2 separate regions of the Homo sapiens genome follow, and region 1 is linked to region 2. The links come from fine-mapping of genetic effects on gene expression. A gene starts in region 2. The other region holds a variant in brackets. All regions are shown on one strand. Distances are between the middles of the regions. Region 1 overlaps ZNF496-DT (ZNF496 divergent transcript). Region 2 holds the start of ZNF496-DT (ZNF496 divergent transcript).

Evidence for each region.
Region 1: its variant is fine-mapped to the expression of ZNF496-DT in whole blood (INTERVAL, PIP 0.92).

Annotation. Positions count from the first base shown.
Region 1 is chr1:247,347,695-247,363,254 of GRCh38, forward strand. The region is part of intron 1 of ZNF496-DT (ZNF496 divergent transcript); the gene reads left to right. Among named protein-coding and RNA genes, the nearest start is that of ZNF496-DT, 23 kb to the left of the region's middle. RefSeq lists enhancers at 10,036-10,335, 14,940-15,484. The variant C/CAGG (reference allele first, on the strand shown) is at 8,988.
Region 2 is chr1:247,324,571-247,340,130 of GRCh38, forward strand. ZNF496-DT (ZNF496 divergent transcript) reads left to right here and starts at 7,484. Exons shown (of 3, transcript NR_168399.1): 1 at 7,484-8,676. ZNF496 (zinc finger protein 496) reads right to left here and starts at 7,297. Exons shown (of 10, transcript NM_032752.3): 1 at 7,220-7,297; 2 at 6,862-7,077; 3 at 5,396-5,511; 4 at 4,619-5,045; 5 at 4,113-4,296. The coding sequence starts at 5,008. It overlaps LOC124904574 (a long non-coding RNA gene), which reads right to left and starts at 12,166. Exons shown (of 2, transcript XR_007067004.1): 1 at 11,884-12,166; 2 at 11,305-11,594. RefSeq lists enhancers at 4,288-4,790, 7,177-7,471, 11,243-11,743 and silencers at 6,335-6,574, 7,145-7,254, 7,385-7,864, 8,977-9,271, 12,897-13,191.

The DNA.
Region 1 (15,560 bases), 23 kb after region 2:
AAACCAAGGCCAGGAAAGAGGAAGGACCTAAAGCGCTGGAAGAATTTCTGGGCCCCAACCACTCCCAGTTTCGGTCTCTTTCTACCAGGGACTGGTGCAAGACTGTCTAGAATTCCAGAGCCTTCTCGATGTTCGGGTCAGACCTCCATGCTCTCCAGCACCACTCCTCCCCAACCCTCTCCAGGGGTCCCCTGGCTTCGCACGGTTCCCCTCCCCGGCCCCCACCTCCCCATCCCCAGTAAGTGCAAGCAGCTTTCCGGGGCAGGCAGCTGCCCTACACCTGGTGCTTACAGGGAAGTGGAGAGGAGGGGCAGGCGGCTGGAGCGGGGGTCTCCAAGGTGGGCCTGGAGCCCGGCGGGCTCTGGGGCGCTGAGCTCATCTCGCCACGCCCTGCGCGCATCCGCGCAGAAATTTGGGAGGTGGGGTTGAGTCTCGCAAGCTCCTCTCCGCCAGGCTGGGCCGCAGCGGACGCCGGCTCCCCGATCACCCGCTCAGCAGCTTTGGCCCAGGAAGACCTGCAGCCCTGGCTCCCTTGCAGGGGTGCAGCTGGGGTCTCACCCAATTCCCGGCATAAATGAATGGAAGAGGCCTAGGGGTGAACGTTTATCTCCACATTACTGTGCAGATCATTCAAATCGGGACTAACCAGAACCGCAGTCTTCCCATTTCTAGGGAGGAAAGTTGCTCTTAAAAATTTTTACAGTAAATAATTTTCCTAGTGGACCTCCTTTAAAGGGAAATTGCCGTATTCACCCCTCAGTTGTTCCAGTGCTTTGTTTGTGTCAGAAATTAAATGAATAAGCCAGAGAGAACCTCTTGGACCTGCTGCACCAAATTCACAAATGAAAAGTTCATCACCGCTTGAGGGCGAGTGGCTTCTGGGGCTCAGCTCTCAGTGACCTTTAACCACGGCTCCTCACCAGGTTCCAGTGAATTTGGAAGAGGAATCCCTTTTTCTCTTTTCCAGAAAAGTCGCTGATTCCCAGTGTCTTTCCTACTGAGGGCTTTTTGAAGCATTCGGAGTTCAGTTTCTCTGGATTGTTATGGGCCCAGCTTCTGGGGCCCGTCCAGTAAATACCACTCCATTTGAGAAGAGAATAAATAGGCAGTTACCTCTCTTGGACAAAAACGTTCCGATCCATCCCCTCTGAACTTGGAAAGAAATCCCCCCCTTCTCAACAGGTCTTGCACCGTTGTTTTTCACCCTATGAGTTCTGCATGTTTTATTCAACATGGTGGGTCTCCACAGATATTTTTTAGTGAAAGAGGCTGGTGGAGATTAGATGTGAGAGTGTATTGCTTTTTTTTTTTTTTTTTTTTTTTTGAGATGTAGTCTCACTCTGTCACCCAGGCTGGAGTACAGTGGCATGATCTCGGCTCACTGCAATCTCCGCCTCCCGGGTTCAAGTGATTCTTCTGCCTCAGCCTCCCTAGTAGCTGGGACTACAGGCACCCACCACCGCGCCCAGCTAATTTTTGTATTTTTAGTAGAGATGGGGTTTCACCATATTGGCCAGGTTGGTCTCGAACTCCTGACCTTGTGATCCACCTGCCTCGGCCTCCCAAAGTGCTGGGATTACAGGCATGAGCCACCGCGCTCGGCCGAGTGTATTGCTCTTATCTGGGAAATAACTCATAGACGTATTTCTGAAGGAGGGCTTTTCACATCTGCCAGCAGGAAGCGTGAGGGGAGGCTCCGCCCATCAGAAACCACTGCTTGCTTTAGCACAGCCCTTACCTCCAACAGTTTTATGGGCTCTCTTTTTTGAGGAAAGGAGACATCCTTCTCTAGGAATAGTTCTGGTTTGGGGACCCAGTAGGAGGTAGATCTGTTACAGGAAAGGGGTCCCAATCCAGGCTCCCAGAGACGGTTCTTAGATCTCAGGCAAGAAAGAATTCAGAGCAAGTCCACAATGCAAAGCCTTGTGTGTCCATAAAACCTAAGCCCTGGCTGGTGTTCAACTCCCGGCCTCAAGATCTCATCAGATCTACCCCTGGTGGATCCCCAAACTAAATCCAAGCCTCACCACGGCCACCTGTCTGGACCCCAGAATCTAAAGGCTCAACACCAGAGACATAAGCTCACGGACAAATCAAGCAAGTATTCAAAATGTCACAAAACAACTGTTTTATGACTTTGAAACATCTAGCAGAGGCTGGGTGTGGTGGCTCACACCTGTAATCCCAGCACTTTGAGAGGCCAAAGCTGTAGGATCACTTGAGCCCAGGAGTTCTAGACCAGCTTGGGCCACACAGTGAGACCCTGTCTCTACAAAAAAATTTAAGAATTAGCCAGGCATGGTGGCACCCACCTGTAGTCCCAGCTACTTGGGAGGCTGAGGTGGGAGGATCACTTGAGCCCAGGAGGTTGAGGCTGCAGTGAGCCATGATTACACCACTGCACTCCAGCCTGGGTGACAGAGTGAGACCCTGTCTCAAAAATAAAATAAAATTTTAGCCATGAGACTGAAAAAACTCACTAATTTAAAAGGACATTTGGGGCCAGGAGTAGTGGCTCACACCTGTAATCCAACTGATATGGTTTGGCTGTGTCCCCACCCAAATCTGATGTTGAATTGTAGCTCCCATAATTCCCACGTGTTGTGGGAGGGACCTGGTGGGAGATAACTGAATCATGGGGGCGTTTTCCCCCAGACCATTCTCGTGGTAGTGAATAAGTCTCATGAGATCTGATGGTTTTGTAAAGGGAAACCCCTTTTACTTGGCTCTCTTTCTCTCTGTTGCCTGCTGCCATGTAAGATGTGCCTTTTGCCTTCCACCATGATTGTGAAGCCTCCTCAGACATGTGGAACTGTGAGTCCATTAAGCCTCTTTTTCTTTATAATTTACCCAGTTTTAGGTATGTCTTTATCAGCTATGTGAAAATGACTAATACATCAACTCTTGAAGAGGCCAAGACAGGAGGATTGCTTGTGGCCTGAAGTTTGAGACCAGCCTGGGCAAAGTAGCCAGACCTCATCTCTACCAAAAAATTAAAAAAAAAAAAAAAAATAGCTGGGTGTGATTGTGTGTGCCTGCATTCCCAGTTGCTTGGGAGGCTGAGGTGGGTGGGGTCACTTCAGCCCAGAAGTTGGAGGTTGCAGTGAGGTGTGATTGCACCACTGCACTCCAGTGTGGGCGACAGACTGAGACTCTGTTTCTAAAGAAAAAAATAATAATAAAAATAAATGAAAGGACAGTTGGATTAAAACTGTGGCCCTGTAAATGGAACAAGTTAATCTGTCCCACATAGCTGAGTTGTAGAGAATATAGGGCAGCAAATCTACACCTCAAAGCAGAGAGAGAGAATTTAAGCTTTTTTTTTTTTTTTTTTTTTTTTTGGTGAGACAGACTCTTACTCTGTCACCCAGGCTGAAGTGCACTGGAGTGATCTCAGCTCACTGCAACTTCTACCTCCCAGGTTCAAGCGATTCTCCTGCTTCAACCTCCCAAGTAGCTGGGATTACAGGCGCCTGCAACCACACCTGGCTAATTTTTGTTTTTGTTTTTGTGTTTTTTTTGAGGCAGAATCTCACGCTGTTGCCCAGGTTGGAGTGCAATGGCGCGATCTCGGCTCACTGCAACCTCTGCCTCCTGGGTTCAAGCAATTCTTCTGCCTCAGCCTCCCGAGTAGCTGGGATTACAGGCGTGTGCCACCACAGCCGGCTAATTTTTTTTTTTGTATTTTTAGTAGAGACAGGGTTTCACTGTGTCAGCCAGGATGGTCTCGATCTCCTGACCTTGTGATCTGCCCGCCTCAGCCTCCCAAAGTGCTGGGATTACAGGCATGAGCCACCATGCTTGGCCTAATTTTTGTATTTCTAGTAGAGACGGGGTTTTGCCATGTTGGTCAGACTGGTCTTGAATTCCTGACCTTAAGTGATCCACCTGCCTTGGCCTCTCATAGTGCTGGGATTACAGATATGAGCCACTGCACCTGGCCAAATTTAAACATTTTTAAGAAGAAATTTGTGTGTGTTAGGTAAAGGGAGGTTAAAAATGGATGCCAAGGTTAACACAGAATCATAGGAATTTACAAGAGCATATAAGGAGACCAATTTTAGGTAGTTTTCAATGTAGTACCTATTAGAAATGGGTTCCCTTAATCATTGTATCCCTCCCCCATTTCAGACGGAGCTGAACTCCCATTTCCAAATGGGTGGTTTCCAATTTGGTCTTCATTTTCCAGCTGCACCACTGAGCTCAGTGCAGAGCCCATTAATGAATAGGGCCAACAAAGCATTTGCAGTTTTCAGGGCCTAATACTTATGTATTTGAAAAGCAAGCACAGCTGGAAGGCAGAACACCCAGATCCTCAGAAATCAAAGACCCTGTTTTTACATGGAGTCCTGGGTGTCTCAGAGCTGTGTTAAAAGCCCAAGAGGGAAATGTCATGGGCCAGGCTGAGCAACACTTCCACCATGCACCTTGCTGCAAAGGTATTCCCCCTGGGCTGGTGGATGGCCCAGTGCCAGTCAGCCCACTGTGTGATCAGCCCATCTCTCATGGGTATCTTTTTTTCCAGTATTAAGTGTTCCTACAGTCTCCAAGTTTCCAAACTTCACATTTCTTATCTAAATGTTCAAAGAAATGAGTACTCCCCTATAGTAGTAACCATTTGCCACAACTGTAGTCTGCCACCTCCAAGATTACACTTGCCAGTGACTCACCAGCCGTAACACACCCGAAGGTAATGTGCTCTTACAATACAAAATACTCCTGGTACCCATAAAAGCCAAAAAATATCAGGAAACTCAGACCGGGTGCAGTGACTCATGCCTATAATCCCAGCACTTTGGGAGGCTGAGGCAGGAGGATCACTTGAGCCCAGGAGTTTAAGAACAGCCAGGGCAACATGGTGAAAACCCATGGGTACAAAAAAATTAGCAAGGTGTGTGGTGATGTGCGCCTGTTGTCCCAGCTAATTGGGAGGCTGAGGTGGGAGGATCACCTGAGCCTGGGAGTTTGAGGCTGTAGTGAGCCATGATCGTCATAGGAACAGAAGGCAGAGAAATTCTGGGAGGGCAGTTCCCCAGCCAAGGCCCCACCTTCAATCTGAAAAGCCTGATACTGCCGCCCAAAGTGAGAACTTACATCCCTGTTTTCCCATTCAAATGGTGCCTTTTCCAAAACCACCTGTGGCCTGCTCTGTCCCCCATCCCGTGCCCATAAAAACCCCAGGCTCAACTGGCAGAGAGAGGGGAGGCAGCTGGACTTCGCAGACTGTGGTTGGATATGATTGAGAAGTGGCTTGACTTCAGAGGGACAGCTTGACAGCATAGCTTTAGAGAGGAGTCCAGCTGGGGATGGCCAGACTTCAAGGGAAGATTACCTTCCTGCTCCATCCCCTTTTCAGCTCCCTTTGCCACTGAGAGCCACTTTCATTGGCAATAAAATCCCCCACATTTACCATCTTTTCATTCATGTGACCTGATTCCTCCTGGACACCAGGCAAGAACTCAGGTGCCATGAGTGTGAGTGCAAAAGGCTGTCACACTGACCCTCCACTGAGCTGTTAACACTGAAGCTGGCCATGGACGGCAAAGCTAAAAGGGCACTGTAACACTTCTTCTGGGGCTTGAGGGATTGTGGGCACTCTCCCCTAAATGCTGCTGTGGGGCCGGTATGCAGTTCGCTTTTGCCAGCACCCAAAAGCACTCACTCAGGCTTCTGCACCTACTCACTGGTGCTCCCTCTCCGAGGAGTGGAGCAGTAGTGAATGGAGTTTGCCTCTGCTGGTGCCAAAGCAGCTGGCTGGTTCTAGCACCCGTGCGCCCCGGTTTCTGCCCACAAAAGGGTCAAGGAAATATCCTGCTTCAATTGTGTGAGAAAACATTTTCACTGGTCCATTTTCAAGGCCTGATAAATCTAAGCACTGGCAGCCAGTCTGTAAATGTAACAAACCACATGGCTCATGCACCCAGAAGGTCACAATAAGCAAACAGAATGTAGAGAAGGGGTCAGTCCATAAAAGGGAAGAAAGTTTCGTTATAGGGAAATCAAAACTTAAGTGGGAGCTGGGCGCAGTGGCTCACACCTGTAATCCCAGCATCTCGGAAGGCTGAGGCAGGTGGATCACCTGAGGTCAGGAGTTCGAGACTAGCCTGGCCAACATGGTGAAACCCCATCTCTACTAAAAATACAAAAATTAGCCAGGTGTAGTGGCAAGCGCCTGCAATCCCAGCTACTCAGGAGGCTGAGGCAGGAGAATTGCTTGAACCCAGGAGGCAGAGGTTACAGTTTGCCAAGATTGTGCCATTGCACTCCAGCCGGGGTGACAGAGTGAGATTCTGTCTCAAAAGAAAAAGAAAAGAAAAGAAAAAGAAAGAAGAAACTTAAGCAGGGAAGGAGACTGGGGTATAACCTTACAAGGAGGACAATGAAACTTAGATGACATCCGGGAAGATCGTAACCCCATAGTACTCGACCAATGAAGAACTAGCGGAGGGACTTGTGTGCTAGAAGATAAATTACCTGTTGTGACTGCCCCAGTTGTGCCTGCCCACCAGACACCTGATCTTGCAAGACCGTTACTAAATGTCTCCTTTTCACTGTTCTTCAGGCCTCTAAGTCCATTCTCTGGATTTGGACAGGTGAGTGTGTTTCTCACAAGCATGGGGGCCCATCTGGGATCCATGTGCCTGTGTGAAGTGGGACTTTGGCCGAGAGGGGAGATGTGTCCCACCTGATTTAGGTGGCCCGCTCTATCTGGGCATCCCAGCTTCCCATAGAAGGCATAAACAAACCCAAGACTATTATTCAGGAGGCAGCAGAAGCAACACAGGGAGAAAAGCAGGCACTGCGGGAACCAGGCAAACTCATGCACCAGCCAAGGAAGGAAAATTGGACTGTAAGTACTGCCTTGGTCATGGGGCATTTTTGGAGGTCTCGGGGTGTGCAAGAAACCTCCAGTAAGGGGGGTTGAGTAGACAGGGAAAAACTCAGACGCAGAGACTGGCAGAAAATGGGAAACAGGAATTCTAGGCCTGGGAGCCAAAGGAAAGAGGGAGCCAAAGAGACTCCGTCTGACATTCCCCTGGATAGTCCTTTGGGGAGATTGTTGCAGGTTTGGTGGAACAACCCTCGAACCAGGGACAAGGAAAAGGAAAAGATGATAAAGTATTGCTGTTTTGTCTGGCCCAAAGACCCCATTCATAAGCCTTCTGTCTTTTGGCCTAAGTTTGGCTCAGATGAGGATTGTGTTCTAAGCTTTAATTCTCTCTGTGAATAATAAAACTTCATCCTCACAAGAAGAGATAGGTTACTCTCTGCTGAATCAAGGAATTAGCCCCCATGATCCCCCTCAAAAAAGAAGAAAAAGAGCCTGGTGAAGAGCCCTCACCCAGTGAAAAGCCCTGGGACCCCCTATCGTGCTTGCCCCTTCATACGTCTCACAAAAAAGGGGACAGGAAGATCAAGGGGCAGCAGGAGGGTTAGAGGAAGAAAGACCCAGAGACTACAGGGGAGCCAAGCCAACTGCTCCTTTAAATCCTTATCCAAATTTAAGAAAAGAATTACAAGAGTGTAAGAGGGATATTGAGAACTTCCCTATCCCTTCCACACAGCAGGCATCTAGCATGTTCCCTCTTAGGGAAGTTCCCATGGGACAGGGAGAGATTGGCTTTGTAAACACTCCTCTTGCAAGTACTGAAGTTAGGAATTGCAAGAAGGAAATGAAACCACTCCTAGAAGATCCCCTGGGTTTAGCAGACCAGCTGGACCAATTCCTAGGACCCAGCTTTTACACTTGGGCTGAAATGATGTCTATCATGAATATCCTGTTCACGGGAGAAGAAAGGGGAATGATTAGGAGAGTGGCCATGACCAGTGGGGAGAAGCAACACCCTCCTGGGCAGTGAGACTTGCCAGCCAAACAAAAATTTCCAAATGTTGATCCCGAATGGGATAATAATGATCCCAGGGACTGGGCCCAAATGCAGGACCTCAGGAAACTAGTAATTCAAGGGATCAAAGAGTACACTCCTAGGACACAAAATGTCTCAAAGGCATTTGAGATTCAACAAGAAAAAGAGAAAACTCCCTTCACATTCCTGCAGAGGCTCAGAGATGAGAAAATACTCCAGATTAGATCCGGAGGACCCAGTAGGGCAAGGCCTGTTGCAGATTAACTTTGTTACTAAAAGCTGGCTTGACATTACAAAAAAAAAAATTACAAAAGATTGATGGATGGAATGAGAAACCGATTGAGGAATTACTGAGTGAAGCTCAGAAGGTCTTTGTGAAAAGAGGGGAAGAGAAGCAGAAACAGAAAGGGAACATCATGATTTCCACTGTGGAAGAGGTAGCCAAAAAAAGATTAGCTCAAGATCCCCCTCAAATGAGACAAGGGAATGATAGATTTCGACACAGAGAAAGAAAGGAAATGCAGGGGAAACCTCCTAAGACTATGAGTGGCTAGATGTTACAAGTGTGGAAAGCCAGGGCATCTTAAGAGAGAATGTCCTCAATGGAAAAAAGAAGAAGAGATGATCCCCCTCATGACCGTTGATGAATACAATGGGGGTCAGGGCTTCCTTCTGAGTAGGTCCCACCAAGAACCCTTGATAAATTGGAAGGCGGGACCTTAGGGAGAAGAAGTGACATTTTTGGTTGACACTGGGGCAGCTCACTCCTCCCTAATCCACAAACCAAAGGGTACAGAACTCTCTAAGGAAAAACTGAAAGTATTAGGCGTAAAAGGGGAGGGATTACAGGTTCTGATATTCAAGACAATGTTAATTAGACTGGGACCAGAACACATTGAGGGGTCACTCTTATATATTCCTGAAGCAGGAACTAACCTAGTGGGTAGAGACCTGATTGTGAGATTCAGTTTAGGATTAGGGATACACAGAAAGGACAAATGAAAGTAAGGATGGGCCTCCTAACAGAGGAGGAGGGAAGAAAAATTAGTCCCGTTTTGTGGTTTGGGAAAGGCAAGCGGGGACACTTAAGAATCACAGCCTTACAGATTGGACTAAAACAAC[C/CAGG]AGGAGGAGTTTGCAGAAAACAATATCCCATTTCTGTTGAAGGGAGAAAAGATCTCCAACCAGTAATAGAGGGATTAATTAAAAATGGACTGTTAGAACCCTGCATGTCACCATATAATACTTTTTTTTTTGAGATGGAGTTTCACTCTTGTCATCCAGGCTGGAGTGCAATGGCATGATCTCAGCTCACTGCACCCTCCACCTCCCGGGTTCAAGCAATTCTTCTGCCTCAGCCTCCTGAGTAGCTGGGTGCGTGCCACCACACCCAGCAAATTTCTTTTTGTAGTTTTAGTAGAGATGGGCTTTCACCACATTGGCCAGGCTGGTCTGGAACTCCTGACCTCAGGTAATCCACCCGCCTCAGCCTCCCAAAGTACTGGGATTACACGCTTGAGCCTGTGCCTGGCCAATACTCTAATTCTTTGTGTTGCTTATCTGGGAGGGAGAGATTCTGTGTCTATTCCCAGCCATCTTTTTGCAGCTGCAGGCATCTCCCACCGCCCCCCCATCCCAGTCAGCTTTAGCTTCCCTATCTTAATGTGCCTAAAGGGAAAGGAATGTGCTTATTAAGGCCCACTGTTTATACTGGGCCCGACTGTGGGAGTGTGAAGTTTGGTGTTTACCCAGGAGACATCCCCCGCCTCCTTCTATGCTTAAGTTGTTTATCTGTAGTTTATAGCCTGAACTTTCAGGCTACCCTTTGTTAAAAGAGAAGTGATTTCTTTGAACCGCACGAGATTAGAAAGGAAGCTATTTCAAGAGTGTTAAGGGGAATTATGGAAGGTTTACAAATTTGATGGGATTATCCCACCCCTTGGCATCCTGTGGAAAGGTAAAAAGAATAAACCAAACTCTCAAAAAGCATCTCACCAAACTAAACTTAGAAACTAAAGTGCCTTGGACCAAATATCTCCCATGGCTTTAGGATTAGGATTCGGACAGTCCCCAGAAAAGACTTGGGATTGTCCCCTACAAGTTATTATATGGACTCCCATATTTGGGCAGGGCTACAGATCCTCCCACTATGGAAACCAAAAACCAATTCTTAAGAAATGATATACTGGCCATATCTTCCACCCTGTCATCCCTCAGGTTAAAAGGTCTTCTGACGCAAGCTCTGCCTCTTGAGTTCATGGTTCACTACTTCCAGCCTGGCAACTTGGTGCTGACTAAGATTTGGAAAGAAGACAAGCTCCACCCAAGCTGGGAAGGTCCCTGTCAAGTGCCTCTGCCCCTGAGACAGCCCTGCGAACAGCTGAATGGGGGTGGACTCACTACACTGGAATCAAGAGGCCGGTAAAAGAGACCTGGAAAGGGAAGGAGAAAGAACAGTGGGAAGTGCATGGGTCACCTGACGAACACTTAAAGTTAACTCTGAGAAAAATTTAGAAAGAAAGCGTGGGCTGGCTGCATTTCTGAAAGGTAATAAGGCTGGGATGGGTTAGTATACAAAGAGCAGAAGGTCAAAATGGAAACTGGCAGGGGACTCCCCACTGCTCAATCAGGTTGGTGATTAATATGATTAAGACGGTAGCACCCCAAACTATAAGATTTGATGCCTGTCAGGTTTTACCTTGTGGGAATTTAGAAAATCAGAGACAGCTCTCGCAGGCAGATAAATCTCTTTGCCTTGAACCAGATGCAGGTTGCAGTAGGGCATCACCCTTCCCCAGCTGGGAGGATGTATGGTGCGCTACCCAATTTCAGGGTTGGACAGTAAACATGGTGTGGGTAACTCCAAACTGGAAACCCTTGAAGCATAAACTACCTCTGTCCAAGCGCTCCCCACCAAATAACTGCCAGAATTTAGAATGCCATCCTATACTCATCACCCTTGACAATTCAGCCTTTCTAGACCAAGAACCAAAAGTAGCATCTCAGGTATATGGGTTAGGAGAAGACATCACAAGGAAAGACCCCCAGGTCGATTTGATCTCAGGCTAATCAAGAACTCAACCTCCCATTTGCCTGGAACTACTCCAACCCCAGACCCTAATAAACACTTTAGTCTACCAAATATTAACCCTAAAATGGTAACAATAATTGAGGTAAAGGATTTAAGGCAAACCTTAGAAATTGAGACAGGGTATAGGGATGTGAATGCCTGGGTCAAATGGGTCATATTTTCGGTACAAGCCCTCAGCAAAAGTAACTGCTACGCGTGTGCTGCAGGACCACCTCAGGCGCAGGTGGTTCCGTTTCCCCTGGGATGGAATAGTGATTCTAGAGGAATGTGTTGCATGTTGGCTGCATACCAGCACAATGATATAAGTAAGGAGAAGTAAGACTTGTAAGAGTCTTTCATTGCTGTTTCCTGCATTGCGGAGCTCAGATCCCAGAGCAATACCCTCGTTCTCTGCAGAGAACATGAACTACTCCTCTTGCCTCTCTAGACAGGGGGCAGAGTTCCATAAGCCTATGGGAGAACTCTCAACTTGTACCCACATCCTAAACGTCACTGGTGAGTTGAGCAATGGCAATTACTCAGCTCTCCATACACCCCGGGCTGATGTCTGGTAGTATTATGGGAAAAGGAACCTACGTAACCTGTTACTGTCCAATGGGACCAGGACTTGTGCTTTAGTCTCATTGGCCATTCCCTTCACCCTGGCATCCCATAAGATACCCCAAAATACACATGGCCACTGAAACCAGAGAGATTTCACAAATTCTTTTAATCCCAATGTGTATGTTGACTCAATAGGAGACCCTGGTGGGGGTAGGGTTGCCTAATAAATTGAAGGCCTGAAACGCAGTAGGTGCTGGGTTTAAAGTCAGGACACTTCTGCTGGTCAACTATTAAGAAGAATGCGAATTAAATTAACTCCATCTATTATAATCAACAGGAATTCATCAATTATACTTGGGATGCCCTCAAAGGGTGGCTAGCCAGTTAGATGCCACCAGCTAAATGGCCTGGGAAAACAGACTTGCGCTAGACATGATACTAGAGAAAAAGGGAGCGTGTGTGTTATGCTGGGCGGGAAATTTTGTACTTTCATTCCCAGCAATACTGCCCCAAATGGGACCATCACAAAAGCTTTACAAGGACTAACAACTCTAGCCAACGAACTGGAAGAAATGCTCGGAATTAATGACCCATTTACGGGTTGGCTAGAAGGCTGATTTGGAAAATGGAAAGGAATGGTAGCTTCAATCCTTATATCTCTCATAATTGTGGCAGGATTCTTAATAGCAGTGGAATGTTGTATTATCCCTTGTGTGAGGGGACTAGCACAGAAATTAATTAAAACAGCTATTAATAAACAAATGCCCATGACTTACCAGCAAAATAACCTGCCACTATTAGAAAGCAAATTAAACTCACTCTCCTATGAGGAAGAAAGTAAACAACTTCTGGAGCGATTCACGGCCCAAAAGGGTTTAAAAGAAAATGAGAACAAAATAAGTAAATAGAAAAGAGGAGGGAATTGGTGAGAAAACCTTTTAAATGGTCCATTTGCAAGGCATGATAAGTCTAAGCACTGGCAGCCAGCCTGCAAATGTAAGAAACCACATGGCTCATGCACCCAGAAGGTCACAGTAAGTGGACAGAATGTAGAGGTGTGGTCAGCTCATAAAAGGGAAGAAAGTTTTGTTATGGGGAAATCAAAACTTAAGTGGGGAAGAGGACGGGGTATAACTTTGTAAGGGGGATAATGAAAGTTAGGCGATGTCCGGGAAGATTGTAACCCCACAGTACTCAACCAGTGAGGAACTGGGGGAGGGACTTGTGTGCTAGGACATAAATTACCCGTTGTGACCGCCCTGGTTGTGCCTGCTCACCAGACACCCGATCTCGCAAGACCGTTATGAAAAGTCTCCCTTTCGCTGTTCTTTGTGCCTCTAAGTCCATTCTTTGGGTTTGGATGGGTGAGTGTGTTTCTCACAAATGCACCACTGCACCCCTGCCTAGGTGACAGAGACAGACTGTGTCTCAAAAAAATGAAAATATCAGGGAACTCAATGCAAAAGACTGCGGCGCTTTAGACTTGAGAGTAACCTGCCCATGACCCTTGGGGCTCCGTGAGGAAGACAAAAGACCCCCAAAAGGAGGGTGTATGGCACCTTTTTCTGGTTTCTCAAGGGGTCTCAGGACTGCTAGAAGTTCCCTCTTGATTTCTTCGTGTGTTATTGAAGGTGGCAGAAAGGAAGAAGGGCCAACAGTAAATGGGAAAACAATTCTTAGAGGGCTCAATTTGGGAAGATTTTAAACTTCCCAAAAAGGCCAAGGATGTTTTACATTTTTCTCAGTAAAAATCATGCCGACAACAACAACAACAAAAAAGTGAACAGATGGAAGGAACATAAAATTGCTTTTTAACAAAATTTCAGTTGACTGAAAAGAATTCCCAGGGTAGGAACAGGATCCAAAGAGAAAAAGCATTGCTCTATATATCTGCCAGGGAAAAATCCCCCAAAAACTAAAAGAAAAAAGAAAAAGCAGAAGGGTGTGTTGAAAATACACAAGCAGCAAGCTTTCTGTTTCATGAGCACGTGGCCTAACACTGGAGTGGAAAGAATTTCGGCTGTGGAGCGCTCCCACCCGCTCTGCTCATGGGAGGAGCCCTGCCTCTCTTCAGCTTCCCAGCAGTGGTGGGAGACACACGTCTCTTCTGCCCACGGGAGGAAGCGAGACAAAAGAAAAAAGTTGCTATCACACTCTAAATACAAACCAGTTTTCTATCAAAGGTATACCTGAACAAATGACTCAACGCCAAGTGAAATAAGCACCAAGGAGACCAGAACCAAGAAGCCTTTCACGGCTTTCACCAAGGTCTCCAGAGAGGAGGCAAAAGTTGCAACCCTGCTCAGATCCAGACCACTCCAGGCAGCTCAAATAAAGGAGAATTTTAGTAGCTGCAAATGGGGCTACTGTCTGGCCATATTATCTAGGGTTTCAGCCTCTCAGCTGGCTGACTGCACACAAAGGCCTGACAACCCGTATCTCCCACAGACGGAAGATTGCATGGCAGTTTGTAAGATGGGAAGTCAAAAGCTGTCTGTGGGAATAGACAGGATTGCAAAGTGAAAGGGTACCCCAAAAGGTCAGAGTTATGCAAATACCAAACTAACTTTTTACAAATGTTTCTATTTGTTTTGTCCTGAGTTAAAAGATTTGCATTTCCAAGAGTCTGGTTTCCTGACTGGGAATCAAATCCAGGCTGTGGTGGTGAAAGCATGGAACCCAGGCCCTAGATTAGGGTGGCCCGTCTTCTTTGTAAATCCCAGGGGGATCCAAAACAGGCAGCTTGGGCGCACTATATATATATATATATATATATATATATATATATATATATATATATGTGACATATATATTATATATGTGACATATATATTATATATGTGATATATATATTATATATGTGACATATATATTATATGTGATATATATTATACATATATAACATATACATGTTAGAAATATATATTTTTTATATCATATATATATATTTGTTTGAGACAAAGTCTCGTTCTGTCACCCAGGCTGGCGTGCAGTGTGGTGTGCTCATGGTTTACTGCAGCCTCAACCTCCTAGGCTCAAGCAGTCCTCCTGCCTACCCCTGGCTGAGTAGCTGGGACCACAGGCGTGTGTCACGATGCCTGACTCATTTATTTGTTTATTTATTTTGTAGAGATGGGATCTCCCTATGTTGCCCAGTCTGTTCTCAAACTCCTAGGCTCAAGCAAGCCTTCCTTGACCTCCCGAAGTGTTGGGATTACAGGCATAAATCAGTGAATCCAGCTACACAAAGGATTTATAACTTAGTTGTAAATCTGATTTCTGCCTTAAAAAAAGAAATCCTGCTAAGGGAGTTTCTAAGGCTATATATTCCTTTTGTGTCTTTTCATAGGTACCAATAAGAAAGCTGTTTAAGACAAGAGCTCTTAGTGGCCGGGCGCGGTGGCTCACATCTGTAATCCCAGCACTTTGGGAGGCTGAGGCAGATGGATCACCTGAGGTCAGCAGTTCGAGGCCAGCTAGCCAAGATGGTGAAACCCTGTCTCCACTAAAAATACAAAAAAAAAAAAAAAAAAATTACCTGGGCATAGTGGTGCGCACCTGTAATCTCAGCCACTGGGGAGGCTGAGGCAGGAGAATTGCTTGAACCCGGGAGGCTGAAGTTGCAGTGAGCAGAGATTGCGCCACTGCAGTCCAGCCTGGGCGACAGAGTGAGACCTTGTCTCAAAAAAAAAAAAAAAAGAGACAAGAGCTCTCTAAAAAGTTTTCTTTTAAAATATAACTTTTTAACTTATTTATTATGTTTTTTCAAAATTTCAACTTTTATTTTAGATTCAGGGGATACATGTGTGGATTTGTTACATGGGTATATTGCATGATGCTGAGGTTTGGGGTGCAAAGCATCCTTTCACCCAGGTAGTGAGGATAGTACCCGATAGGTACTTTTTCAACTCTTGTCCCCCTCTCCCTCCACCTCTCCCCTTCTCCTCTCCCCCTCTCTCTCTCTCCCCTTCTCCTCTCCCCCTCTCTCACTCTCCCCTTCTCCTCTCCCCTCTCTCACTCTCCCCTTCTCCTCTCCCCTCTCTCACTCTCCCCTTCTCCTCTCC
Region 2 (15,560 bases):
GCTGGAACAGAACTCCTGAGCTCAAGGGATCCTCCCACCTCAGCCTCCTGAGTAGCTGGGACTACAGGTGTGCCACCATGCCCAGCTAAGTAGCTTGGTTTAATCATTTCACAATGTGTATAGATATCAAAACATTACACTGTACACTGTAAATACATACAATTTTTTTTTGTCAATTTGAAGACAGAAATTAAACAAAAAAGAAAAACTGTTACCACTGTAGGTACTCCTGAAAGAGCATTTGACACAGTGTCCTAAAGACCCTCATACAAAATGTAAAGTGTGGCTTTGGGACCATCTCACCAGCCTTATTTTGGGCTACCAGGGACTCTGCCACTCTTCTCTCCTGGAATTGGAAACTACCCTTTGTTCAGGCTTCTGCCATGAGCCACATCCCCTGCCAACAGTGCAGCCATGTAAAAATGAGCTCTGTTTCAAAAGGTACTCCTTTCTCAGATTAAGACTTGGAGAGCTGTGCTATAGTCTACTGGTTAACCCCAGGTCACATGTTAAGTCATTATCAAAGCAAACCCCAGAGGCCAGTGTCCCTGGCCTTTCAGACCTGGAATACAAAGCCTGCAGGAAACAGCAGCTGCAGGAGTGGCTATGTGGAACAAAGGACGGGGCCAGGAGCCCACACAGATGGCAGTGCCATTCTAGGGGTCTCAGTGGAAGGCAGCCTCTTCACTGTGTCTGAAGGGGAAGCTCAGGCTGGATGGGCGTAGATTTGAGGAGGTGGTATTTTTCTGTGTGTATGTTCCATTTTAAGTTTCTATCTTCATCTTTATTTAACTTACTTTTACCTCCCAGTTTTATTAAGCTATAATTGACAAAAATTGTATGTATTTTGTATACGAAAACTGTACAATGTGATAACTATACATTGTGAAATGATTAAATTAAGCTAATTAACAAATCTATACCTCATATATTTTTGTGACGAGAACATTTCTTATTTACTTTCTTAGCAATTTTCAAGTATAAGATGCATTATTTTTCATCAACCTCACCATGCTGTACCATAGATCTCCAGAATTTATTCATCTTACCTAACGGAAACTTTGTACTCTTTGACCGATGTCTCCCAGAGGGGGTGTTTTATTTTTTAGAGGTGGGTTCTCGCTATGTTGCCCAGGCTGGTCTCAAACTCCTGGCCTCAAGCAATCCTCCTGCTTCAGCCCCCTGAGTAGCTGGAACTATAGGCATGAGCCACCATGCCTGGCTAGGAGGTGGTGTTTTAGTTCTGCTTCCTCACACCTGCCACCTTCTGGGATATGTAGCTATCCCAGATATTCATATATATATGAATGGAGATGCCCCCTAACTGGGTAACCTGGCTAACTCCTTCCCATCCCTAGCCCTCCCTTCTCCAAGTTTAAAATCATGTTGGCCGGGCACAGTGGCTCACGCCTGTAATCCCAACACTTTGGGAGGCTGAGACATATGTATATATATATATACACACGCATATATATATATACACACACACACACATATATACACACACACACACATATATACACACACATATATATACACACACATATATATACATACATATATATATATACACACATATATATATATATATATGAATATGTAGTCCCACCCTACTTTTGGCCCCGATAAATGAATACATGGACCCTTTCAAGAATCACTTCGGAGAGTTGCAGACCCTACACAAAATCTAGCTTTTGGGGAAGATCTTCAAGATGAGGAACTATACAGCTCTGATAGGTAGTGCATTCCAATGATGAACTGTCCCAATAGTTAAGGTTTTCCTGATTGCTAACTCTCATCATACCTACTTTGCCTATTGATTATTGCTCATGGAAATGGGAGAGCTGGCCCTGTTTTCCTAAAGCCCATCTGTGGTTGCTGGCTTATCTCAGAACTTTATCAAGAAGCAACTGCACAGGCTACTGTAGTTCCTGAAACTTCTTCCTCTCCACCTGCATGCCTTCCCAGACCCCACTACAAGGCCTCTCACAGCCCCCCACTTCCTGCATAACCCAAGCTACTTGCACGTGCATTATGTGGGCGACTGGCTGCTTCCCTTATACCTGTTGTTACAGGCTAAGTTATGGCCCTCTCAAATTCCTATGTTGAAGCCCTAACCCTTAGGTACCTCAGAATGCGACTGAGTATTTGGAGATAGGGTCTTTAAAGAGGTCATTAAGATAAAATCAGGTCATATGGGTGGGCCCTAATCCAATAGGACTGGTGTACTTATAAGAAGAGGAGATTAAGACACAGACACACACAAAGGAAAGACCACATAAAGAGACCCAGAGAGAGAAGGTGTCTGTTACACCTGCTCTGCAAACTTCTCTTAGTGTAAACATCTTCCTCTTCCTTTCCCTGAAAGAAAACCGCCCGTCATCAAGAGTCCTGGCACAAAGCTTGTTGTCAGCTTTCAGGGCCGGATATTCATGGGTTTTTACGGGTCCCAAAGAGAGCCAGTGGCATAAGAGACTTCCCCTCCTAGCTCCTTTTTTTTTGTTTTGTTTTGAGATGGAGTTTTACTGTTTTTACCCAGGCTGGAATGCAATGGCGTGATCTCAGCTCACTGCAATCTCCGCCTCCCAGGTTCAAGTGATTCTCCTGCCTCAGCCTCCCGAAAAGCTGGAATTATAGGCACCCACCACCACACACAACTAATTTTGTATTTTTAGTAGCGATGGGGTTTCACCATCTTGGCCAGGCTGGTCTCGAACTCCTGACCTCAGGTGATCCGCCCGCCTTGGCCTCCCAAAGTGCTGGGATTACAGGCGTGAGCCACCGCGCCCAACCCCTAGCTCCTTCTAAATGTCTATCTGCAAACTTCTCTTAGTGTTAACATTAGGCATGTCTACAAGCCAAGGAGAGAGGCTTCAGAAGAACCCAAGGCTGCTGATACATTGACTTCAGACTTCCAGCCTCCTGAACTGTGAGAGAATACATTTCTGTTACATAAGGCATCCAGTCTGTGGTACTTTGTTATGGCAGCCAACAACACACCAAACTTGATTTATAAGCAAGAAAAGGCTGAAGAGTTTATGTGATTTGTACAGAAGTCAATATAGTTTTTCCACACACAGAAATTTAATAGGCATTTTGGTTTTATTACTGAAAAGCTTATCATAATGCCAAACACAACTTCTGCAAGTCATAAGAAAGTCTCCCCTGGCCCCCCAGACACTCTCTTTCCATTGTACCTATAGAGCACTATGGCAAGTCCACCCAGAGTCATAAGAAAGCCCCCCTGGCCCCCCAGACACTCTCTTTCCACTGTACATATAAAGCACCGTGGCAAGTCCACCCAGAGGAACCCACGGGCCAGACTTCCTTCAACCCAAGGGCGCTGGTTTCCCATGATATGTACTTAAAGTTTTGGGCACCTCAGGCCTTGTGTTCAACCTTTTGTAGGTTGTATCTCATTTAATTGTCCAAAAACCCCAAAAAAGGTAATTACTATCTCTGCTGGACAGAGGAAGAAACTGAGGCTTTCAGAGTTTAGAAACATGCCTCAGGTCATAACCAGAAGATTCAAATCTAAGTTTATCTGATGAAAAAACTACTTTCCTGTAGCTACCATGTACTTCATATACATACTCAAACTATGTGTAGCTGATGTTCTGGCCCCACACACTAGACACCACCCTGTGTCCTCCTAAGTATTTCTACATCTCTTCGCAGCATCACAATACTCCTGTAAACAGGAGTTGTTTAGCCAAGGAAACAGAGGTTCCAAGAGACAAGAAATGGCCATGCTCCAGTCATGCAGCAGGCCCCAGCTGTACACTGGCAGTCCCCAGCTGTCATCAAACTGACAAATCCTGCAGAGATGCACCCTCGAAGAGATGAGAGGGCACCACCTCAGTGACACCCACCTACAGAAGCGTTAGCTCTGAGAGGCTCTAGAACCATGAAGAGGACAAACATCCTGATGAGGTTCTCATTTAATTGCTCTAGGAAGGGACTCAGACCCTGACAACAGCTCACAGCACCTCGGGGACACGAGAACACTGCTGATGTAAAAGCCATCAGCTTAACAAAAACCACACCCAGTGCACAGTATGGGGTGTGCACTTCCCCAGATCACCCCTGCTACACTCCCCTGGGCTGCATACCTGGGTCCCCGCTGAGCTGGCTTGGTGGTCTGCTTGGGAGCCCCAGGCACTGTGCCAGGGTTATGGGCTGGGCATCCTGGTTCTTTGCAAGGTCGCTGTGGGGCTCTACCGGCAGCTGCTCCTGCTCCTGGTCCAGAGGGCTGTCCCCATCATCAATCACCACAGGGTCTTCACAGTGCTTGAGCTGCAATCCCAGAGACAGCTTTTCAGGGCTAGGGGAAGAGGTCCCATCTCTCCCTGGGCCTGGTGACCATCCACTCCACAGCTGACCATCAAAGGCTCAACTTAGGCCTTGGACTGGGCTGTAAAGGGGCACGACACTATCATGCCCAAATTAGAGCCTTCAGGGAGTAAAACTGGCTTTCTTAGGAAACTCTAGTCTGGACCTAACCAAAGTAAATGGCTCTCGATGGAACTCCTCATTCCCCAGCCAGCACATGCATGGCCCAGCCAAAGTGTCTAAGTACCAGATCTCTACCCGTCCCAGCCCCACCTCTTCTACTCACCCACTGCCAGGGTCTCCCGGGCTCCCGTTCCAGTGCCTCCACCGCGGCCACAGCCTGCTCTCCGCTCTCAGGCTCCTGCGCCCGCACCCAGCTCTGGATCTCCCGGGGCAGGATGGCCAGGAACTGCTCCAGCACCAGCAGCTCCAGAATCTGCTCCTTGGTGTGCCTCTCAGGCCGCAGCCAGCCCCCGCACAGGTCCCAGAGGCGCTGCAGGGCCTCCCGGGGGCCCGCCGCCTCCTGGTAGCGGAAACGGCGGAAGAGACGCCGAGAGGACTCGGGGCTGGGAAGCTCCCCCTGGGGGCTAGGGTTCTCTCCAGGTGGGCTCCTCATTTTCCTGGGCTCCTCACTTTCCTTCGGAGCCAAGACTCGGGGGCACAGGGCTGTGGGCATGATGGGATTTGATGGGGGTCAGCAGCAGAAGACGACCCTATTTCCAAACAGAAATCACTGGCTTCAGTGTTCTGGTCTCCTGTGGTCATTTCTGGGGGACAGTGACAAGGAAACTGTCAATGCCCTCAGAGACCAGCCCTTTGGAGAAGCCCTGGGAAAGGTAGGGAGTGTTGGTGTGGCTGGTCTTTACACACAGGATGAAACAGACAGAAAGATGCCCTCCCCCCATCAGTACCATTACGTGTGGATTCCCGTTAAGTGGGTGACTGGATGAACAAGACAGGAAATCTGGGAGAAAGTGGTGGCATTTCAACGTGACACTGCTGTTTTGAGCATCCCAGGAAACCAACAGCGCCACATGCAGATGTAATCAAGACGCTCTGGTACCTTGGGTGGCTGGGTCCTCCTGGAGAGATCCGAGATGGGCAGGCCAAGCAGGCCACTATCTTGAAGCTCCGGAGCCGAAGTCACTGTTCTTGTTATTAAGACCTTTACAAATGGAGCTGGAATGACAAAGACATGCATCGGATGAGCCTTCAAGCACATCCAGGAATGGAAAATCCACCCTTCTGGTGGCAGAGGGCTGATGGTGCTGCGTGCTGGATGGACAACCCAGCCAGAATCAGCTTTGCCCAGCAGAGTCTGCAATGGGAGGCAAGGGAAAACATCACATGAGACAGCTACATGCAGTCTACCAGGGACAAATAACACTGCATCTAGAAGTATCAGTGGTTTCCTATGAGCCTTCTGCCAATTCTGCCCTGACCTTCAACCTCGCCTCCACCCTATTCTCTATCCTTGCCCTCTTCAAACCACATTGAAGGCAACTGCACACTCGCCAAAGCCCTTCCTCGGCCAGGACAGAAAAGTGGGTCCGTCACTGCACAGCTCAGCCCTCAAAGAACCCCTGGACACTGCAGCTGCCACACCCCCAAGGTGGGACTCAGGGGTCCCTACACCTCCCCGCTGGTGTGCAGACAACTAGCCGACACTTTTGCCACAACTAGGGTGGCAAGAGACCAGCAACCAGTATACCTGGTGTTTATGATTCCCACTTTAGAACGCTGGGCCCGTGAAAGGGCACATGGGGACACTCACAGTCCCCTTCTCTGCCATCAGGCCTCTGTGATCCTTAGGACCGGCAGTGCCTGCCACTCCCCCATCTGCACGAGGTTGTCCAGCGTGGCCGCGTCTTAACCTCCAACAGCTCACAAGGTGGGAAGGGGGACTCGGGCCTCACTCCCATTTCACAGAAAGACAAGTGATGCCAGAAAAGCTACGGAACAACTGAGTGGTTCCAGAAACACCCACTGCTCTGAATCTCTTTGCTTTCCAAAGTAACAACATACACAGAAACCCATATGGGGGCCGTGGCGGCGTCGGGCTGGACGCATTACAGCGCTCCCCACCACCGGATCGCTTCCAGGGCGGCTCCGGCATCTGGAGCCCGGGGTGGGCCCCGCCCGCCCTGCTCGGCGGCCCCCTGCGGCGCCCATCACACACCTGCAGCGCCCAGGACTACTCAGGCCCGCCCCCCCGAGCACCGGCGCCCACCCGGGCTGCCACTCGGATCGTCTCCAACCAGACGGCCGCGTCCGTCTTTGTCACGGCGGCACCTGGCGCGTCGGAGGCTCGGAGGAGATGCCTGATGAATGAACTAACGTGAGTGAGGCGGAGGAGGGCCCCGCAGGGGCGGAGCGAGCTCCCAGCCTTTCGCGGAGGAGGGACCGAGCTGGATCGGCAGAAAGGGAAGGAGAAGGTCGCTGTGGGCCAGGGAAGGGGGAGCCCGCCCTCCGCGCCCTCGGTCTCCCTCACACGCGCGTCTCCCGTCTCGCCGGCTCCGGGCTCCTCACCTCACAGCCTGGAGCTCCCTCCCGGCGTCCGGCCGAAAACCCTCCTGTGGCGGCGGAAGTCCAGGGCAGCCGTCCTCATCCTCCCAGCCCGCCCGGCCGGGCGTACTCGCTGAGGCGGGGTCTCCGCAGGCGCCCGGCTCCTTTCCCGGCCCGTCCAGACCGCGTCTCCCGATCATCCGGAAAGCCACGGCTCGGCTCGGGGGCAAATGGAGGCGCCTGAAAAACAATGGTGTTGCTTTCTCCCCCGCCCGCACCTTCCTGAGCGCTGGGCTCTGGGCTGGGAGGCGGCGCCGCGGAGGCCGGGCGCGGGCCGAGGAGGGCGGGGCGGGGCCGGCCGCGGGAGCCGGGGTGCACTCACCGCCGCGGCGCGTCCCTGTTGGCGGGCGGCGCAGGCCTGGCCGCCGCGGGAGCCCGCCGGACGCCGAGGAAAGGAAAGGCCGGAGCCCTCCGGCTCCCTCCCCTGGGACACTTCCTGCTCCGCTCTAGGACTGGGGAGGTCTCCGCATCTCAGTGGTTCGCTCCCCCGCCCCCCGGCCGAGGTGTGCGCTGGGGGTGACATCCGACACCCCCGGCCCGCCCCGCTCCGCGCGCGCCTGGGCCTGGCCGCCGGGCCGGGGGCTTTGTGGGTCAGCCACGTCGCCGCGCCCGGGCTTCCCCGCGGGCCCGCCGGTCCGGAAGGTCGGCCCGGGGCTCTTTTCTCCGCTGTTCTCCTTCTCTGGCGCCCCCAGGACACGCGGCCAGTGGACGCCCGGAACGGCCGACCGGGAGTCGCGGCTGGGGATGGAAGCTGGAATTGGGGGTGCGGGATGGAGCGGAGAGAGGAGGCCCCGCGCGCCGTCGGCCGCCTCATTTCAGACTCCCCTGCGACCCCCCCCCCGCCGCCAGCCGAAGCCCGGGCCGCCCAGCCCCTCCTGCCGCTGCGGGACGCCGAAGGTAGCGCTCACATCCGCGCCTTCCGGGCCTGGCGCCCACGTGCGGAGTCCCCGGGTTAGGAAAGGCCGCGCATCCGGAGGCCACGCAGAGCCTCGGGGCTTGCGCAGAGGGGCTGCGGTGAGTCCTGACCCTGAGTGGGGGTCACGGGGCTCGTTGCTCGCTGAAGTGAACACGGTTGCAGCTGTGCACAGTGGCGGAGGGAGAGGATGAGGGACTCTGACCCAAGGTTATGTGGCAGTGAGGGGCAAGCAGAAATGGGGGCCTCCGGACCCCACCCCGAGACAGGGCTGCTGGCCGCTGCACTATGCTGAATATAGCCCAAATTCTTACATGGGTCGTCCCCGGGGAATGCTCATTTTTCAGGCTCCAGAGCTTGAGAGAAAGTGCGAACCCGGTCCCTGAGCAGGTCTGATTCCCATGGCCCCTTCGCCATCTGCTCTGCACCGAAATTGGATTCTCCTACGCAGAGGAGAAGGTGGAGAAGATTCTCCGTCTTCCGGAGGGTAGCTACTGCCGGTAGCTCCGATTTCCTTCGGATCCCCTTTCAAGGGCAAGCAGAAGGAAATCAGTTTCTCCAAAGAAAGTGGCCCGGCTGAGTAAGTGGGAACAAGGTGGTTGGACTGAGGCACGGGATCCTTTAGCTCCGTTGCTCTTCTAATCCCGTGGCCCTGGGCACCGCCACTTCCTCCTCTGAACTGCTGGAATAATCACTTCTGACTAGCAGAGTTACTGGGAGCCGCTGTTTGTCAGTGTTCACATTCTGACTTTAGCAGGAGATGGAGCGAGCGAAGGAGTGAAGCCCTTGTTTGTGAACAGTGATTGTTTCCCGGATGACAGCCAGATGCCGGGCAGGGCCACGCAGATCTTAGCTGGAGCCTACAGGTACAAGTGAGAGCCACCCCCTTTGACGTAACTGGACTGGCATTTACAGAACTCATGTACAGCCCACTCTCAGGAACACCAGCCAGGAACCGTGACATGGAGGAGAGGAATTGGGAGGAACCGAGGGGTCATCAAAGGCTGGTAGGGCTTAGGTGCTCTAGCAAACATCCTAGTCTGTGGGGTTCCAGAGCTCTGGTGCTACAGCTCCCAACCCTTTGATTGGCCCAGGAACTGGCTGTTGAGTGGGCATCCGTGTTCATAGCTCTGCCCCTTGCAACCCTAAAGCAGATAAAATGCAGGAGGCAGAAATTGCTGGCAGACAGCATCCAATTAATCCCCACTACCCAATTCAGTTTCTTCCCCTGACCTGACACGTCCCTGCCCAGCTGTGCCTCCCACTGTTCACCTTTTGAGGCACAAAACGGGCTGTTTATGCTGCTGCTGCATTTAGCTCAAAACAGGGCTTCAGAGTCAAGGTTCTGGACTCAGGCACCCGGATTAAATCCTGCCCTATGAATTCCTAGCCAGGTGACCTCAGGCCTACATAACCTTTCTGTACCTCAACTTCCTCATCCAGAAAACAGGGATGATGCTGTCTACCTCATTGGATGGTTGTGCAGGATCAAAGATTCAGTCATTCAGCAAACCTATACCGAGTACCTACTGTACACTCATGAGTGCTAGGCAGCCAGCCTTCCAGGTGCTCAGGTACATCTGTGAACACAACTGGCTATTGGAGGAAGCAAAATCAGTAACATGACCTGCTCTCTTTGATCTGTGCTACAGAAAAAAAGGAAAGTGGAGAGGCATCAGGAAGTCAGGAGTGCTGGGGAGGGGCTGGTAACAGTCATGGTATTAAAGAGGAGGGCAGGCAGGCCTTACTGTGAAGGTGGTATTTGAGATGAAGTAGTTGGTCAGAGTCCCTGTTTGACACATGGAGACCACCTTGACAGCAAAGGCCCTAAGGGGGAGCGGTGCGAAGCAAGGTGGGCTGGTGAGTGAGAGGAGAGGGATGGCATAGAGCTGGGTGGGGGCACAGGAGCCCGTGGGGAAGGTGTTCGCCTCTGAATGAAGTGGGGTTGTATCAGATACCACGGGTGAAGCATCGGGAAGAGGATCCTGCCTGTAAACCCTGCTCAAGGACTGCACCATCATCATGCCCAGTGTGTGCGTGTATTAGGTTTGTATGAATATAATGTTGCCAATTGTATCTGTTTTTATGAAATGTTTGCTATGTGCCAATGATTATTCGATCCATGGGGAGACCATAGAAGAATGATCCAAGGAGTTGGGAGGGGAATCAAATAATAAATCAGCGATTCTGCAATATAACGCCATTGGTGATCGGTGTCATGAAAGAAATACAACATGGTGGGGAAGAGTGTGCTGGGGATGTTCAGGTAGGGCCTCTGTCAGGAGGTGACATTTGAGTGGAGAGCAGGTGGGGGGCTCCTGAGCAGAGGTGTGTGGGAAGAGTATTCCAGCAGAGGAAACAGCGTGTGCTTGCTCAGCTGGGCAGAGGAATAGTGAGAGAATGGTGAGGCTGGAACCAGGTCACCAGATGTTATAGTCATTAGAGGGTTTCAAGTAGGAGTGTGGCCTAACGGAATCTTGATTTTATCAAGATCACTGTGCAGAACAGATGAAGCAGAGTCTCTGTTAGGAATCGTTGTAGAGATCCCGGCAGGAGATGCTCGGTTCCTGGAGTTGACTGGTGGAGGCACAGCTGGTGAACAGTAGGCCCAATCCAGGCTCTGTGTTGAAGGCATGCTGCCTGTGTTAGAGGAGTGAGGAACGGCTGTGACTGGGGCTGAAACTGGGTGACTGAACAGGCCTTCTAGAGATGGCAGATGCAAGGAAGCAGGTTTCCAGGAAGGGGTTGGGTTTGGGGTTGAATTGGTGGATTTGGGACTTGCTGGTTTTCAGATGCCCAGGAGACAAGTGGGGATGACCCTCTGGGATAGAAAGCTGTGGCTGGAGGTGGAAATCTGGAGTCACCGTATGTAGCAGGAGCTGGGGCTTGAGAGGGTTGAGTGTGTTTTGAGAAGCAGCCCCAGGGAGGGCAGACCCTGCGAAATGCCAGCCCTGGACCGTGGGAGCCCAAGGGGTTAGTGGAGGAGAAGGGAGAGAAGGGGAAGTAGGAGGAGGAAAGTGAGGGAGGACGAGGGCAAGAGAAGGGGGTAGGGAGAGCTGCTGCCGCCTTGAGATAAAAGGAAAATTGCAGGTGTGGAGCCCTGGAATCCAAGTGAGCACCTGTGTTTCAAGGAGAGAAAGAGGTCAGGGGGATAAATCCTGCGCCAAGATCAAATCCGATGAGGAAAGAACACTGCCCATTGAATCTGGTAGAGAGGCCCCTGAGCAAAGCAGACAGTGGAGCTCCTGGGCTAGGGCACTTTCTGGAAGAGAAGGGAGATGAGAGTGGACACAGCCCTGTGGAGAAAAACGGTCTCATCTTAAAGATGGGAGAAATTGCAGTGCATCGCCTGGAGGAGGGAGGGCTGGCACCCAGGGCCCACGGGGAGCCGGAGGGCAGGGAAGGCTGCCTCTGGACCTGAGGCATGTCCACAGCATCTGGGCAGGGAGAGCCTGGGGCAGGCTTCTTCCAACTTTGCCAACACTCCAGTAAAATAAGGAGCAAGTGTGACGTTTTATTTTATGAGGCAACTTGGCTAGCTGTGGTACTCAGTTTTTGTTCAAACACCAGTCTGGTGTTTCTGTGAGGCTGTTTTTTAGATATGATTAATAGTTAAATCTGTAGACTTTGAATGCAGCGGGTTACCCTCCATAGCGTGGGCGGGCTTCATCCAATCTGTCGAAGGCCGTAAGAGCAAAGACTGCAGTCTCCTGAGGAAGGAACTCCCCCTGCGGCGCGCCTTCCGACTTGCTGCAGCTTCGGCTTTCTGGATCTGCAGCCTGCCCTGCAGATTTTAGACTTGCAAGCCAATCAGTTCCTTAAAAGAAAACAGTCTCCCTCATCTCTCTCTATTGATCTCTAGCTCTCTATCCCCACCCCCTTCCCTCCCCCCACTCCACATGCTATTTGTTCCGTTTCTCTGGAGAACCCTGACTGCTACACAGGGCCCTTAAGTGACAGGGAGAAAGAGAGGGTGAAATGTGAGAGCAGGAGGAAGAGGGCGTGAGACGGCCATCTTGCAGAGTGGAAAGGTGAATGGACGATAACAAAGGAAAGGGTGAATTATATATAACCTGGAAAGTGAAGTGTGCACAAGGAAATGTGATGTGTAACCTAAAGCCCCAGTGCTTTGCAGGTGGGCAGCCGTTCCACTGTGACATCGCCCCCCAGGTGGGCAGCCGTTCCACTGTGACATCACCCCCTGCAGAGGAGGTCATCATTCCGCATAATATGCTTGTAGACTGATGACAAATACAGGTGTGCAAATATGTGAAGCCCCATCACTGGACCAACCACACCTGCCTTCTCTGGGAGCTGTCAGTACCCACAGGCCCCAACCACAGCTTGCGCGGCTAACCAGGCACCAGGGACTTGCATGCTTTTTGCAATGTGAGAAGCTCTGTTGTAAGCTGGGCATAGTAGATACTCAATAAACTGTGGCTTTAGGAACAGTCCTAGGAATAGTAGTGCTAGTTCTTACTGTGTTAGTCACAGACATCTAGGGGGCATGGACAGCAAGGCATTAATCTGGTCCCTTATTGTGGCCTGTGGAAAGGGGTCAGTGAGAAGCTGCTCAGTGAAACAGCTTTGCATGATGACATTTTCTCACTATAGAGGCCTCCCAGCTGTCACAGAGGCCTGTTCATCTATTTTATTTTTTCTTTTTTTGAAAGCAAAAACACTTTGAGATTTGCAGGTAGGCTGACATAACCCACTCTCAGGGGCTCCAGTGAAAGTACCTCTTTTAAGTGGCCAAGTTGTCACTAAAGAGATGACATCTTTTTCCTGGAAATCAGCGTTGGATGCTACAGTCAAGAAAATAAAGACCCCAAACATTGGTATTTGGAGCTATTCTTGAGCATTGGGTTGTTCATGTTTATTCAGCTGGACCATCAGGGACAAGCTTGTGCCTTGACAAATTCAGATTTGCAGAAATGACCAGATTTATCGTCTTGATTCAGTGAGCGGGGGAGGGCACCCAGAGGAGGCTGGAATATGGCTTGATAATGGGAGAAGTATTTTTGCGAGGTTTGCTCCGGATGGAGGAGGAGAAGGAGGAAGAGGGGGAGGGGAGGAGGAGGATGATGTCAGGTGTGATGTAAGTGTGGGAGTAAGTCTCCCTTGTGGGATCTTTAAGAATCACTCCCAAGTGGCTGCAGCAATTACAGTCCAAGAATGATATGAAAGTACAGGATTTATGCTGCTCCAAGGTCCTGGAGAGGGAGGCACCGCATGCGTGCAGGGCCGTGTTGGATGAGAGCCAAGGGCCCAGGCTCTGCAGTGCAGGTGGGGGGTCGAGAAAGAGAGAGAACCCGTGGGCAAGTACCTGTGTCGGGGGGTCAGGGTGGGGCACACAAGCAGAAGGTATGAGGGGATTTTACTGGTGCATTGGAATGTCGCTGGGTCACAGTCGGGGGAAGGCAAGAAGGGGACCTGGAGGCAGAGACCAGGCTTATCACACCAGTGTGCCTAGTTGCTTGGGGGACTCACAGCCTGTGTGTGATACTGAGGCCTCATGGAAGTATGAAGTTTTAATAATTGATAATGTATCAGGGAAGTGGGAGTCGCATCTGCACTGGTTGTTGTTTAGAGGGGGGCTCAGAAGAAGTAGGGGTTCACTGAGGGTGATGGGCCGTCAGGAGGCAAGGATGCCTTGGTTGTTGCGTTCCCCCAGTCATAAATGAGTGCAGCAAGTGGGTCTAGGGCGTTCTTGGTTAGAAAGCAGGAGTCCATCTGTCAAGCGGGCGTTGTGGCGTTTCGAAGCTTTGGCAAGACCTTGGGGAAAACCACGTGTCCTGTGAATGCACAGTGGGTTACTCGTCTGTCTTCTTAGCCTGATGAAAGGCAGGGCTGCCTGTTCTCTTTTCTCAGTCCTTACAGATCTTGTAGATTTTCTCACATTCGCTCCTGGAGAGGTTTTTTTTTGTTTTTGTTGCTGTTGTTGTTGTTGTTTTGAGAGAGTCTCGCTCTGTCCCCAGGCTGGAGTGCGGTGGCGCCATCTCGGCTCACTGCAACCTCTGCCTCCTGGGTTCAAGCGATTCTTCTGCCTCAGCCTCCTGAGTAGCTGGGATTACAGGTGCCCACCACAACGCCTGATTAATTTTTGTATTTTTAGTAGAGACGAGGTATCACCATGTTGGTCAGGCTGGTCTTGAACTCCTGACCTCGTGATCCACCTGCCTTGGCCTCCCAAAGTGCTGGGATTACAGGCGTGAGCCACCGCGCCCAGCCTGGAGAGGTTTTGATGCTCTTAGGAGGGAAACGCCTTGATGTTACAGTTCCGCAGATGTTTCCATGAATGTGAGTTTGATCCTTTGTGATCGTCTTTGTTGTCTGCTCCTTAAATGCATTGAATCCTAGCATCCTTGGAATTTCAGGAGGGAAACTGATGTTCAGAGAAAGAGGATAGTGGTCAGGGACCCAGTGTTACAGGGGTATGTGTGTGTGTCTGAATGAGGGAGGGATGGGGAAGTAGACTTTGTACGGAATATGTTCAGCATTTGCTAGGTATATTATCTGCATTGTATTGCCTAATTCTCACCACCATCCCGGGAAGTTGGAGCCCTGAGTAGTGTTTGGACTCTGCCTTCCAGAAAAGAAGGGTTTGCTGCAGGCCTCAAATGGGGTGATTGGTTCTTGGGTGAGTAAATACCAGAGTAAACTCCTCTGGTATTGTAGGACAGTGTTTTGGTCGATCTAGTAAAGGGGGAAAACATCCTTACTCACAGTTCTGGAATTTTATGTCCAGCTATTCCTTGTATGCCATGTCACTTAGGAAAATTTAAAAAGTATCTGGCTGGGTGTGGTGGCTCACACATGCCTATAATCCCAGCACTTTGAGAGACCAAGGCAGGAGGATCACTTGAGTCCAGAAGTTTGAGACCAGCCTAGGCAACATAGCAAGAACCCATCTCCACAAAAAATTTAAAAATTAGCTGGGCAAGGTGGCACATACTTGTAGTTCCAGCTACCTGGGAGGCTGAAGCAGGAAGATCACTTGAGCCGAGGAGGTGAGCTATGATTGTGCCACTGCACTCCAGCCTGGGCAACAGAGTGAAACCCTGTCTCAAACAAAACAAGTAAATATCAATTCTGTTCAGCTTCCTGCCACCTTACTCTTTCCATAGCATTTTCTGAAATTCAAGTCACCTCTGACAACTCCACATTTTTCTCCTCACATCTAGTATTTGCCAATTGATAAAAAGTCTGGGAGCCTCAATGTGTCTTAGATTTATTTTTTTCTGTGCAATCCCACTTAGAAACCCTAACCTATATCTTGATTTCACCTCATAGCATAGCACAGACCTCATCCTGGATCCCACACCCTGATGTGTGTCCTGATTCCAGCTCAGAGCACAGACCTTATCCTGGATCCCAGACCCTGTTATGTGTCCTGATTCCAGCTCAGCACATACCTCACCCCGGATCCCACACCCTGATGTGTGTCCTGATTCCATCTCATAGCAGAGACCTCATCCTGGATCCCAGACTCTGTTGTGTGTCCTGATTTCACCTTATAGCACAGGCCTCATCCTGGATCCCACACCCTGATGTGTGTCCTGATTCTAGCTCAGAGCATAGACCTCATCCTGGATCCCACACCCTGTTATGTGTCCTGATTCCAGCTCAGAGCACAGGCCTCATCCTGGATCCCAGACCCTGTTGTGTGTCCTGATTTTACCTTATAGCACAGACCTCATCCTGGATCCCACACCCTGATATGTGTCCTGATTCCAGCCCAGAGTACAGA